Linked DNA regions of Homo sapiens: region 2 is linked to region 1. Evidence: fine-mapped expression QTL. A gene starts in region 1. The other region holds a variant in brackets. All regions are shown on one strand. Distances are between the middles of the regions.

Region 1 (2,918 bases):
ACTCGACGACTATAGATTGAGTGGAGGGAAGGCCTCTCTAAAGGAGATGACATTTGGGACTTGAATGATAGGACATTCTGATTTTCTCATGTCTAAAATCAGGAATAATACCAATAGCTATTAATATTTATTACCACGAAAAGGTACCATGTTTTACTGGTAAGAGTGCAGGCTATGCGGGTCTGGGTTCAAATCCTGACTTTTGCACCTAGTAACTGCACCTTTAGCAAGTCACATGACCTTTCTTTAAGCATCCTCTCGATAGAAAAGCTTTCCTAAACAGAGTTCCTTGTTATTCTATATCATAGCCACTTTTCCATCTTTTTCCTCCTACTAAATGCTAATTCAATGTATTACTTAATGTTTCCTCTTCTATTTCCTTCACTAGAACGTAAGCTCCCACAGCACAGGACCTTGCCAATCTTGATCACGGTTCTATTTCTAGCACTTAAGTACACTGCCTGTCTCACGGTTGGTGCTTAATATTTACTAAATGAAGCAAGCCGCTTCTCCACTCGAAGACTTAGTTTCTTTTTCCTTCCTAGAATGGGTACAATTTGTCGTCTCACGAGGTCGTTGTGAGTCTTAAATAAGACAATTTTGGTGACAGCTCAGAATATGGCTTTTTGAGGAAAGGTAAAGGGTAATAAAAGATCAAGACGGCACGGGACTATCAAAATGCTTTGCGTTTGCAATAGCAACAATCCTTTAGACTACCAGAGTTCACAAAACGCGGTTACATTTGTCTTTCCAGCTGAGCTGCAATAACTCTGGAAGCCAGAAATAGTCATCTGGGGAAAGTGCAATCCAGAGAAGAAGAGACACCTGATCCTAACAGCAAGCGGTGGGGTCATGCCTGGAACCCTGGCTTCCCGATTTCTGGCTGCGAATTCCTACAGGCGAAGGGTCATTACTCGGATTGTTATTTCCGGGCCAGCGACAGGACAATCCGGGGCGGGGCCTGAGATGCAGTCCTGCGAGGGCGGCCTCCTGTAAGACCTCTTAGCGGGCCCATCGCTGAGGTGCAGGGACATGTCGCGGCCGAACTCACCTCGTGGCCTCGGCGTGGTGCTCTCAGCTCATGCCCGGAAACCAGGTCCCGACGCCGCGGTCAGACGGACCTCTAGACGCGTCCGCCTCAATGCCGCCAGCTGCCAGGCCGCCCGTGACGCGTTAAGCCTGCGCCGCCTCCTGGCTTCGTGACGTCACGACGTCCGCGCAGCTGCGGTCGCCGCCGTCGCACGAGTCTTTCCTTAGTAACCTGGGCGATAGCTGGTGAGTGTCCTTGACAGGGCCTCGAGGGGCGCGTGTGGTCTGGGTGCCAGAGACCCTTACTCAGGGACCTCTGGGGGACCTCAGGGGACCAGACTACCGTCCCCGACCCGTTCGAGTCCAGCTTGACCTTTAAGGCTGAGGGCGGGACCTGTGGCATTGGAGCGAGTCTCATGGGGTGGGGGCGGGGCTCCTTTTACCAGCTAGGAATTTAGGGGATGCTGGAGGAACTTACTAAAGAGTAGCCGCACACTTGACGGGAACGTTTGAGTTTCAGAACAATCCCATAGGAGTAGATATTATTATCTCCCATAATGAAGAAACGGAAGCTCACATAGGTAATTTTACCAGGGTCACGCGGTCAGAAAGTGAGGGCGCTTAAATTCAGACCTAGGGCTATCCGACTCCTAAGCCTGGACTTTTAACCACCACTCTGTGCCACCCAGTGGCAAAACAGTTGTCATTTCAGTAGCCCTTCTCCATTTACTTAACCCTGACAAATAGTATTGTCATTTACGTTTTACAGATGAGACGGAAGTCCTGAGAGTTTGACCGATTTAAGGTCACGTGCCTAGGAAGTGCTGGAACCAAGACTCGGAGTTTTCTCTAAGTTTAGTGCCTTTATTTTGTTTTAAACCACACTGTTGCATTTCCCCCCATTTTGGAAAGCTTTATAGTTGGAAAGAATGAAAACCTGATCTGACCCCTTCATTTTATGGTTGAAACAAAATCTACGTAGGAGAAATCACTTGGTACAAGTCACAAGTCAGTGGTAGAGCTGCCGCAAATGCTTTTTGAATACGTGTGATTATGAATCTAAATGGCAGATGGCAGGGAGTGATAAGGTAGGCATACTGGAATCCAGATCTCTTAACTCTTAGGCAAAAGCCCTTTCTCTACCTGTTAAAGTGTCTCATTCCTTCTTTGGCCGTGCCAGGTGCATAATGATTCTGTGTATAGTCAGATACTACAAGTACCTTTCTTTACCTGGTACTGCATTTAGAGAAGAACATCATCTACTATCTCTAAGCAAAAATCTGGCAAACCAGAGACAGTGGAGGCAACGCTGGGAAGCCCAGAACCTACCATAATAGTAAGGGTAGATTCCCATCCGATTCTGGTTTACCCTGGATAAGGAATTTATCTTTCTGGACTTTCACTGATGTATTCATCACATTCACAGTGTCTTCTGTGTTCTGGCAATGTACCAGGTACTGGGGATACAGCAGTGAACAAGAAAATCATAGATTAGTCCTTGTAGTACTTAGAGTCATATGGAGGGAATTAGACAATCAAATAATTACACAAATGTTAGCTTGTATTGTTAAGAATTAAGTGCTATGATGAAGTAAAGGGTGCTATGAAAGCAGACTACAGGACACTTGACCTAGTTGGGCTGTAGGAGATGGCCAAGGAAGCCGTCCTCTGAGGAAGTGATGGTTAAGCTGAAATCTGAAATAAAAACGGAGACAAACAGTTAAAGAGGTGAGGGAAGATCATCAAGGAGATTCAATGGCATGTTTGAAGACCCTGGAGCAGGGGGAGCCCTGGAGAAGTGAAAGATCACTTTTCTTATTTTGCAAAATACGGGTGGTGATTATCACTCTTTAGTTATGAGAACCAGTTAAGATGGTACATGTGAAAGT
Region 2 (2,918 bases), 28 kb before region 1:
TTACAGGCGTGAGCCACCACGTCTAACCAACTTTACATATTAAGGTTATATATAGAATCATATATATGTAGTATATATGGTATAAATACATACAAATGTATCATATATGATATCATCAGCTATATAACATTTAGGAGACTGGATATAGGGAGTGGGGGAGTGGAAAATGTTCAAGATAACTCTCAGGTTTCTAATAGTTTATTTTATTTTTCCCAGTGACACAGAACATGGGAGCAATTGAGGAAGGGCAAGAGGGATCCATGAGCTCGGTTTTGAGTCAATGTACCAAGGGAATATTCAAGTGGAAGTGCCCAGGAGTGAACGGGACATATGGCTCTGCAGCTCAGAAGAGAGCCTGGATCTAAGAGAAGGAATTTCAGAGATATCAGGGTAGGGATAGCAGCGGAAGCCTTGGAAGTGGAGATTTTACAGCAGCTGGAATTTACCCCATCTATGAGAAGAGAGTTGGCTTGTTTGCTTTCTGGGAGGTAATTTGCCCCTGAAACTCATCTTACTTTTGGTGAGAATCGTTTTTTAAATTATAAAGCACATTATATGTAGTGATAAGTGCTAAAACAGACCCAGGTCGTTAAGACGCAGAAAGGCAATTAACTGCCTTATAGGAATGAGCATGGGTGGGAAAATATCTGTTAGACAAGTGGTGGGGGTGGGCAGAAGGGACTTCCCAGGTAGAAGGCACATCTTGTACAAGGACAGGGGAATCCAGGAGAGTCCATCATGTTTAGGGTGCACAAATAGTTTAGTCTGGTTAGGAGAATGCCTAGTGGGACTGATTTGTAGAAGGCCTCATAAACCTGGCTTATCCTATGGTTCTAGGTATTTGGAAGTATCTTAACTCCTTACTTAGATTAAATCTTAATATCTCTCACTTTGGGGCTTTGTTCTTTGTTCAACGTCCCCCTTAAACCGTTTACGCAGCTTATTAAACATCGTTTGGCCGCTCAGCTCGGGGGGAAATCACCTATGTCACCATGTCCCATTCCCAGCCTGGTTCCCATCCTCTGGTGTCTTGAAGCTGCTGAGTCGTCCCTTTATCACGGTACATCACAGTGCACAGGGCTCCTGCCTCATCATCTTTACACCCTCCACGCATCACACATGGCAAATGCCATCTGTTTCAGGAATGAGTAACCTTCCTTCTGATGAGGTCGCCCACCAGAAAGCTTCTCAAATGGGATAGGCCTGTTTTCAGAAGAGGAACACATAACTTGTTTTTTAAGGTGAAAATTTAAAATTATGCTTCTAGTTTAGAAAAGTCACAGGGCATGTAAAAATTAAATGTCATTCAGCATAATCAGTAATCTTAGCCAAGTTTAAGATTGAATGCAGAGGAAAGAAGACACAGACCTGCGTACTCGGATAAATTCTGACAGATCTGTTTTTTTTGGGTTTTTGTTTTTTTCTTTTTAACCTGGGATTCAAGAGGTCTCTCCAGAGACCACAAGGAAGAGCCTGCTTGAGAATGAAACCAACCCAGAGGAAAACACAATCAAGAGATAGACAGAATCCTAACCATTTCACTGAACACCTGGACTTCTCAGTTACATGAACCAATACATGTTCTACCGCAAGGGAGTTG[G/T]AGTAGTGTTTTTGTCACTTGAGCTGGGAGTCCTGACAAATCTGCTTACATAGCTGGGGCTACAAGTCTAAATCTGAAGCCCAAGTTCTTACGGCCTTAGTTTCCTCACAGGGACAATGAGAGGATTTAGCCCACATTGATAGCCTTAAGCAGTACAGTGATGCCACTAGGGCTGGCACAGCCAGTTCTCTATCCCAAAAGATGTGTAAGGGGTCAGAGACATTGACTAAGAAACAATATTCGGTGCACATCATTCTGACATCTGTTGCTTTTATTCTCTGCATTAATACGAGAATTTTAGAAAACACATTTCCAGTCATGGAATATTGTTTAGAGTAGGGTTTGGCAAATTTTTCCTGTAAAGGGACCGATAGTATATATTTCAGGTTTTGTAGGCCACAGTCTTCATTGCCAACTATTCAACTCTTCTATTATATGGGGAAAACAGCCACATGTAAATGCCTGGGCATGGTTGTGTTCTAATAGTTATTAACATACACTGAGATTTGAATTTCGTATCATTTTCATGTCACAATATAGTATATATATTTTGTTTACTTTTTTTCTCAACCACTCGAAAATGAAAAAAAAATCATTCTTAACTTGTAGGCTATACAAAATTAGGAGGCAGAGGCCAGTTTGCTGAACACTGGACTAGATGTTTGCAGGCCTGGGTTCTACCTAAAGCTCTCCCATTAACCAGGTGACCCTGGCCAAATCGCTTTGTCTCTCTGGGTTCCCGTTTTCCCCATCTGGACAATGAGGGGGCTATATGAGATGGTCTCTTAAGGCCCTTTGGCTCTCAAATACCAGAATTCTTGTAGTTTATCCAACAAATATTTATTGAGTATGTATGATGTACAGCCATTGTTTTAAATGCTGAGGGTATAGCAGTGATATACAGTTCCTGCTTACATGAAACTTACATTCCAATAAAAAGAGACAAAAAAAAATTTAGATATAATGTTGGTTAGCGGTAAGTGCTTTTGAGAAAATCGTGAGGAAAGGATTGGAGAGTGACAGGTTGTAATTTTAAGAGGGAGGCCGGGGACTGCCTCTTGATCATTAACATTTGAGCAGAGACATGAGTCAGGTGAGAGAGCGGGCTCTGCGGCTATCTGGAGAAAGAGCGTTCTAAGCTAAGGCAACAGCCAATGTAAATGCCTTGAAGTAGAAGCTCCCTTGTATTCAAAGAATAGCAAGAAGGCCAACGTGGCTGCAGTACACCGCACAAGGGGAGAACAGTAGGCTATAGGGTCAGACACGTAGTGAAGGACAGGTCATTAGGGCCTTACAGATCTTTCAATTTTTTCTAGGC

Evidence for each region.
Region 2: its variant is fine-mapped to the expression of RBM18 in whole blood (INTERVAL, PIP 0.97).

What each region holds. Positions count from the first base shown.
Region 1 is chr9:122,263,664-122,266,581 of GRCh38, forward strand. RBM18 (RNA binding motif protein 18) reads right to left here and starts at 1,177. Exons shown (of 6, transcript NM_033117.4): 1 at 1,052-1,177. It overlaps MRRF (mitochondrial ribosome recycling factor), which reads left to right and starts at 1,219. Exons shown (of 7, transcript NM_138777.5): 1 at 1,219-1,275. RefSeq lists enhancers at 359-1,330, 709-1,908, 1,331-2,301, 1,477-1,636.
Region 2 is chr9:122,235,783-122,238,700 of GRCh38, forward strand. RBM18 (RNA binding motif protein 18) reads right to left here. Exons shown (of 6, transcript NM_033117.4): 6 at 1,840-2,918. Among named protein-coding and RNA genes, the nearest start is that of LHX6, 8.3 kb to the left of the region's middle. RefSeq lists a silencer at 1,554-1,754. The variant G/T (reference allele first, on the strand shown) is at 1,601.